Homo sapiens: one gene and its partner. The protein of the gene in region 1 purifies or fractionates together with the protein of each later gene. This does not show direct contact. Each region holds a gene or a part of one and is shown in the gene's direction. Other genes may lie near its edges.

The links.
Region 2: the proteins of ACVR1C (region 1) and DAGLB purify together in Homo sapiens (affinity purification with mass spectrometry; one large-scale study listed by BioGRID and IntAct). This does not show direct contact.

What each region holds. Positions count from the first base shown.
Region 1 is NC_000002.12:157,534,693-157,538,512, reverse strand, and holds part of ACVR1C (activin receptor type-1C isoform 1 precursor), read left to right. Parts: intron 1-3,820. UniProt on the Homo sapiens protein: Serine/threonine protein kinase which forms a receptor complex on ligand binding. The receptor complex consists of 2 type II and 2 type I transmembrane serine/threonine kinases.
Region 2 is NC_000007.14:6,409,670-6,413,489, reverse strand, and holds part of DAGLB (diacylglycerol lipase-beta), read left to right. Parts: intron 1-455; coding exon 456-524; intron 525-606; coding exon 607-679; intron 680-3,109; coding exon 3,110-3,360; intron 3,361-3,454; coding exon 3,455-3,653; 3' UTR 3,654-3,820.

The sequences.
Region 1 (3,820 bases):
ACTTTTCAGAGACCATATAGTTTTTCCAATTCATTCCATATATGTAGACATACGTCTTTTTATAAGTCTTCAGAAGGATTTTTTCCCCTTTAGTGCTGTGCATGCATAATGCTAGGTTACATGACAGTAGCAAATCCTGAAATCTCAGTGACTTTCCACAAGACTTTATTTCTTGCTTACACAAACTGCTCTGCAGGTTAGGCAACTCTCCATGGCACCTGTTCTCATTGCAGTAACTCAGTAATCACTCTGATCTGATCCTTGGACACAGTTTCCAGATCTCTAGGTCAGGTGAAGAGAGGAGCTGGAAGATCACACACTGACCCTTTAATGCTTTGGCATCAGGTGACACACATCTTTTCCACTTATGGCTCCTACCAGAACTTGTCACATGGTCCCACCACCTGCAGGGGGGCTAGGCACTGCAGGGAACATGGGTAGACTCAGTGGGTAGTTAATGTCTCTGCCACACAGAATATTACAATTCCAACCATCTTTACATTCAATAAGTTATACCTCATCTCTAACCTGCTAAAGTTTGAACTTATTCTCTCATTAGAAAAGCTCCCTCACATCAGAGACTCCATTGTTATTTATCTTGTCATCTCCAGCAAACCAGTATTTAACCATAATGTACTAGACAAATAGTAAGTGGTTATTGCAATGCTTGTTATGCCTTATGTGAAGATAGAGATTTTTTCTAGCTCTTACAAGGAAAAAGAGTAGAAGGTGGGAAAAAGACTCTAAACCATCTAACTAGTTCCAGAACCATTCTGATACTTTAATCTCTCTCATTTCAGTTATTGCTGTCTATTTTTTTTGCCATATTTTAATGTAATGAATGAGATCTTTTTTAGGTGATGTCTTTTAGTCTGGCTTTGTTTTGGGGAATATTTTATATAGTTGCCTTTTTGCCTCATTTTTCTCTTCCTTCATGTTTCTCAACCCTTTTCTAATTTAATCATGTTTCTCAATCCTTTTTCTAATTTCTAATTCAAAACACAAGATTTGTGTTTTGTTATTTTTATATTTTGTGTAGATGTCTTACCTACATACTTGAGAAGCAAATTTTGAAGCATTTATAATTTAATTGAAATTAAATTAAAAATTTTCTAATATTAATAATTTATGTACACGAAACAATATAAACTTACAGTTTTTAAAGTATAATAGAATGAAAACTAGTGAATCCACTACCAGGTTTGAAAAATAGAACATTTTCAATACCTTTGAAGATTCCTTACCCCTCTGAGAGGTTACTTATATTATAATCAATTATTTCTTTACTAATTTCTTGCTTTGCTTTTGAATTTTACTATATGTATTTTTTTAGAATATATACATATATCCAGAATAACAATATGTTGTTTACTTTTGCATATTTGTGAAACTTACGTGATTGAAACTTACTGTAGATATTCTTTTCAAAATGTTTTTACTCTCCATTATATATGTGTAGCTATAATCTGTCCATTTTCATTGCTGTGTAGTATTCCATACAATAGAAGCATGTGCTATATCTATGAGGTGATGATACAGCATTTTGCTTTAGTTTTTTAATGCAATGACTTACATTTATAGATTTTCCAGTGTTAAACCAAATATACATTCTTGGAATAGACCCAACATAGTCATTCTAGTGTGAACAATTTTGTACATTCCTGATATATGCATTTTTTGTCCAGTATTTTGTTTCTGTCTTGTTTTATGTCAATCTCATGGAATAGATATTGGCCTCATTTTATACCATCATTATTTAGACTTATTCACATGTTTATCATTTTCTTTGCTCAACATTTCTTCTTACCTCTCAAATCATTTTCTGACTTCCTGATGTGAATCCTTTAAAAGTATTTTATTTAATTTTTTTAGAGAAGACCTAGTGGTTGTAAGATTTTTCAGTTTGGGGGTATCCAAAATGTCTTTATTTTGTCCTCAATCTTGAACAAATGGTTTGTCTAACCATAGAAATTTAGGTTAACAGTCATTTTCTCTAAACACCTTGAAGTTATTATTCCACTATTACCTATCTTCCATTAGTGCTATTGAGAAGTCAGCAATAATCAATCAATAAATTTTTAGTTAATTTATCTTTTCTTTATGACTACTTTTAAGAACTTCTCTGTCTTCAGCATTCTGCAGTTTCTCTATGATGTCTTCAGTATAGATGTCTCTGGTTAATCTTGCTTGGAATATTTGGACTATCTAATTCTAGTGGTTTGTGGCTTTCCTCAGTTCTGGAAAATTTGGAGTCATAGTTCTTCAAATAGTTTTTTCTCTCATTGTTTCTATTACTCAGTTTTGGAGAACTCATTAGATGCATGTTAGAGCTTTCATTACACTTTGCTTTTTTTATTCACTCATATTTTCTATATTTGTGTCATTATGGTATGTATCTCTCAAGATTTATTTTTCAGTTCTTTAATTCTGCCTTCAGATATGTCTAATTTGCCATTTAACTCATCCATCGAGTTTTCTACTTTATTTATTTATTTCTGAACCTTTATTTTAGAGCATTTAGACTCTTTGTATGTGCCAAGCCTGGCTCAGTCCATAGGGATATGCCGATGAGGGGGCCACAATCCTGTCATCATGGAACTTAGAGGATAATGAGGAGTCAGGGCAGAGAAGTGAACAACGTATATGTTGCTCAAAACTGGAGGCAGAATTCGTGCTCTCCTGAACTCTAGTCCATGGTCCTGCATAGCTACTTTATTTATTTATTTTTTTGAGGCAGAATCTTGCTTTGTTGCCCAGGCTGGAGTACAGTGGCATGATCTCAGCTTACTGCTACCTCCGCCTCCCAGGTTCAAGTGATTCTTCTGCCTCAGCCTCAGGAGTAGCTGGGATTACAGGCATGCACCACTATGTTGGCCAGGCTGGTCTCAAACTTGTGACTTCAGGTGATCCACCCGCCTTGGCCTCTCCAAGTGTTGGAATTACAGGTGTGAGCCACCGCACCTGGCCAATTGTTATATTTTTGATATCAAGATATTTTATTGGTACTTTTTCACTTTCTAAAACATTCTCATTTTTTACTCATATTTTGTATTTCTCTTTCCTTTTAAAAATATATTTTATATACTTATATCATTTAATTCTAGCATCTAATGTTTCTATGGGCCAAAACTACTATTTACAATGGACTCTTGCTTATGGTACCTTTTTTCCTCATGTGTTTGTGAATTTTCATTATGAGCTCAGGTTTACTGCAATGTTTAAAGGCATGGGCTTGTTTTTTCCTTCACCAAGAGCCAAGACTTAGGCAATTTCCGTTAGAAGGACTTAGGCAATTTGCCTTAGAAGGTTTCAGGGAAATAGTCATCCTTAAATTGAGGGCTTTCTAAGCCTTTTTTTTTTTTTTTTTTTGGACAGAGTCTTGCACTGTCACCCAGGCTAGAGTGCAGTGGTGTGATCATGGCACACTGCAGCCTTGAACTTCCGGGCCTAAGCAATCCTCTCACCTCAGCCTCCTGCATAGCTGGGACCACCATGCCTGGCTAAGTTTTTAAAATTTTTTGTAGAGACAGGGTCTCCCTGTGTTACTCAGGTTGGTCTTGAACTCCTGGGCTTAAGCAATCCTCTCACCTCGGCCTACCAAAGTGCTAGAATTACAGGCATGAGACACTGCGCCTGGCTGGCATCTTGATCTGAAACTTTCTGTGTGCTGTGGGCTGTACTCTCTATTACATGCGATCCATCAGTTCCGAAGTTCTAGACCATGAGAGTAGCAGATACCCCTATGGCAGCCACTTGCTTCAGCGTTTTCCTGTATTTCTCTGGTTTCATGCATTTTCATTGTTTTCCCCTCTTAGTATTT
Region 2 (3,820 bases), on another chromosome or scaffold:
CCTGGCTAATTTTTTGTATTTTTAGTAGAGACGGGCTTTTACCGTGTTAGCCAGGATGGTTTCAATCTCCTGACCTTGTGATCCGCCTGCCTCGGCCTCCCAAAGTGCTGGGATTACAGGCGTGAGCCACTGCACCCGGCCTCCAGTGCATCTTTGATGGAGTCTTCCAAGCGCGGTTTCTGGGTCAAAGGACAGATCCATGTGCTTGGTCCGCCTTGGTGTCCAGTTTGCGGTTTTAGCTGCGGGGCGTCTCTGTTGAACACATATTGTGGCTTTAGTAGGATCTGGCCAGTGAGTTGCCATAACTGACGTTTCCCCTACCCTCCCTTTAGAGAAGAGAGAACAGAGCTGAGGCCTGGGAACCTAACCCCTCAGTGTTACTGATTTCTTTCATGGAAGCCCTTGTGGGCAGTGTCATCGTAAAGCTAACATCCTCTCTCTGTTTGGAATTTCAGCAAAGCTCTGCAGGAATATTCTCAGAGCTTCATCGTGTCACTCGTCCTGGGGAAGGATGTGATTCCCAGGTAAGCCCACCTGGTGCTGTGCCCAGGGCTGGGGGGTTGGGAGTGCCAGGTCCCAGCCTCAGTGTGCCCCTTTGCTAAACAGGCTCAGTGTGACCAACTTGGAAGATCTGAAGAGAAGAATCTTGCGAGTGGTCGCGCACTGCAATAAACCCAAGGTAAGCGGGTGCCTTGTTGAGAGGGTCAGCAGGACACGGGGCCTGTCCCTGAGATCCTGTGGAGAGCCGGGAGGAATTGCACCCTCAGTGCAGGGCACTCTATGCTGTTGCTGGAAGTTCTCCTTCCACCATCTGATCAGATTCTGGGCTAGGACTCTGTGATGTCTAAGAAAGCAAATGGCTGCAGCAAGTGCGGGAAATGTCACAGGGAGGAAACAGGATCTGGGCTGGGAGCAGTGGTGTATGCCTGGAATCCCAGCACCTCAGGAGGCCAAGGCAGGAGGATCCCTTGAGGCCAACCTGGGCAACACAACAAGACCCTGTCTCTATTCTAAAAAAAAAAAAAGAAAAGAAAATACTCTGGAGGAACTGTTTGATTTTGCTTTCTGACAAACTTCTTAGTCCTGTCTTGTGACTAACAGTTTGTTAATGCCTTTTGGCTTTGTTGTCCGAAAGCTTAGAAAGCAAGGCTGCCAAATAGACCTTAAGAGGTACAGGCACATTTATCTACACTGTGGATATCATGCAGTTATTAAAATGGTGATATATGTCCACGTCAAGGGTTTTTTAACATGGTGGTAGAAATTTATGTCTGCTGGCCAGGCGCGGTGGGTCACGCTTGTAATCCCAGCCCTTTGGGAGGCTAAGGCAGGCAGATCACCTGAGTCAGGAGATCGAGACCAGAGTGGTCGACATGGCAAAACCCCGTCTCTAGTAAAAATACAAAAATGAGCCAGGGGTGGTGGTGAGTGCCTGTAATCCCAGCTACTTGGTAGGCTGAGGCAGAAGAATCGCTTGAACCCAGGAGGCCGAGGTTGCATAAGCCAAGATCGCACTCCAGCCTGTTGGATAGAGTGAGGCTCTGTCTCCAAAAAGAAGAAATTTCTGTCTGCCGATAAAGATAGATATCCATTGAAAAGTTCAAAAGAAAAAAAACTTAAAAATTATTCTTAAGAGATATGACTCATGGCAGAGAGTGGGGACAAGGAGATACAGATATATGAATTTTGACAAAAATTTGAAAATACGTATGCCAAGGGTGGTTTTGTTTAGTGTCGGTAGAGATGATTTTTACTTGTTTAATCCCTTTGTTTTCTGACCTTTCTCATGGTTTTGTTCCTAATCAGAAAGAAGAAACGCAATTTAAATTTTTCTCCTTACCAATTACCTCCCCCAGTTTTTTCTTTTTTGAGACAGGGTCTCGCTTTGTCACCCAGGCTGGAGTGCAGTGGCGCAGTCTCGGCACATTGCAGCCTCCCAAGTTCAACTGATCCTCCCACCTCAGCCTCCTGAGTAGCTGGGGCTACACTACAGGCATGCGCCAACACACCTGGCTAATTTTTGTATTTTTTGTAGAGACAGGGTCTTACCATGTTGCCCAGGCTGGTCTCAAACTTCGGGGCTGAAGCAATCTGCTTGCCTTGACCTCCCAAAGTGCTGGGATTACAGGTGTGAGCCACTGCTGTGCCCAGCCTAAAATTTTTTTTAGAAATTAGTATCTAGGGCGGGCCCGGTGGCTCACGCCTGTAATCCCAGCACTTTGGGAGGCTGAGGTGGGTGGATCACCTGAGGTCGGGAGTTCGAGACCAGCCTGACTAACATGGAGAAACCCCGTCTCTACTAAAAATACAAAAAATTAGGCCGGGCGCGGTGGCTCACGCCTGTAATCCCAGCACTTTGGGAGGCCAAGGCGGGTGGATCACGAGGTCAGGAGATAGAGACCACGGTGAAACCCCGTCTCTATTAAAAATACAAAAAATTAGCCGGGTGCGGTGGCGGGTGCCTGTAGTCCCAGCTACTCTGGTGGCTGAGGCAGGAGAATGGCGTGAACCCGGGAGGCGGAGCTTGCAGAGAGCCAAGATTGTGCCACTGCACTCCAGCCTGGGCAACAGAGTGAGACTCCGTCTCAAAAAAAAAAAAAAAAAAAAAATACAAAAAATTAGCCGGGCATGGTGGCAGGAGCCTGTAAGCCGAGCTACTCAGTAGGCTGAGGTAGGAGAATCGCTTGAATTCGGGAGGCAGATTGTGGAGCCAAGATCACGCCATTGCGCTCCAGCCCATAGAAATTAATATCTAATGCCTTTCAGGGAAGGAAGGGTAAAGCTGATTTCCAGAATTGCCGGAAAATAATTAAGGGAAATATCCCTCACAGTCTGTATGGCTTAGTTTTTAATATTGCTCCACGTGTGATGGTTTTACTGCCCAAGAGAGAGCCCACACTCATGATCTGTGACTAGGCATAGAGCCTTGTCCTGAGCCGAGGTGGCTGCCACCCAGCACAGCTCGCCGGTGCATCTTTGCTGGAGTCTTCCAAGCGGGGTTTCTGGGTCAAAGGGCAGATTCCTGTGCCTGGTCCGCCTTGGTGTTTCGGGAGGTCTCGGGTGACAGAGGGTGAGTGACAGCATTCTACTGATTGGGTCTCGCCCTCAGTACAAGATCTTGCTGCACGGTTTGTGGTACGAACTGTTTGGAGGAAACCCCAACAACTTGCCCACGGAGCTGGACGGGGGCGACCAGGAAGTCCTGACACAGCCTCTTCTGGGGGAGCAGAGCCTACTGACGCGCTGGTCCCCGGCCTACAGCTTCTCCAGCGACTCCCCACTGGACTCTTCTCCCAAGTACCCCCCTCTCTACCCTCCCGGCAGGATCATCCACCTGCAGGAGGAGGGCGCCTCGGGGCGGTGAGTGCGGCGTGGTGGGTGTGGTGGGCAGGCAGGAGCAGCGCGGGGTCAGCCCTGGGGCCGCGTGGGAGCTGTCTCTCCTTTTCTGCTTCAGGTTTGGCTGCTGCTCTGCTGCTCACTATAGCGCCAAGTGGTCACACGAAGCGGAATTCAGCAAAATACTCATAGGTCCGAAGATGCTCACCGACCACATGCCAGACATCCTGATGCGGGCCTTGGACAGCGTGGTCTCCGACAGAGCGGCCTGCGTCTCCTGTCCAGCACAAGGGGTCTCCAGTGTGGACGTGGCCTGACCAGGGCCACTGGAAACTGTCCCAGGAACGATGGACTCACGCTTTTGTCCTTAAACTGACTTACCATCCGAGGAGTTCCCATGACGCCAAAACAGCGAATGTCCATCAACAGGAATCGGATGGGAACAGAATTCCATGGTCTCAATGACTTAAGTTTATGGGAAGTC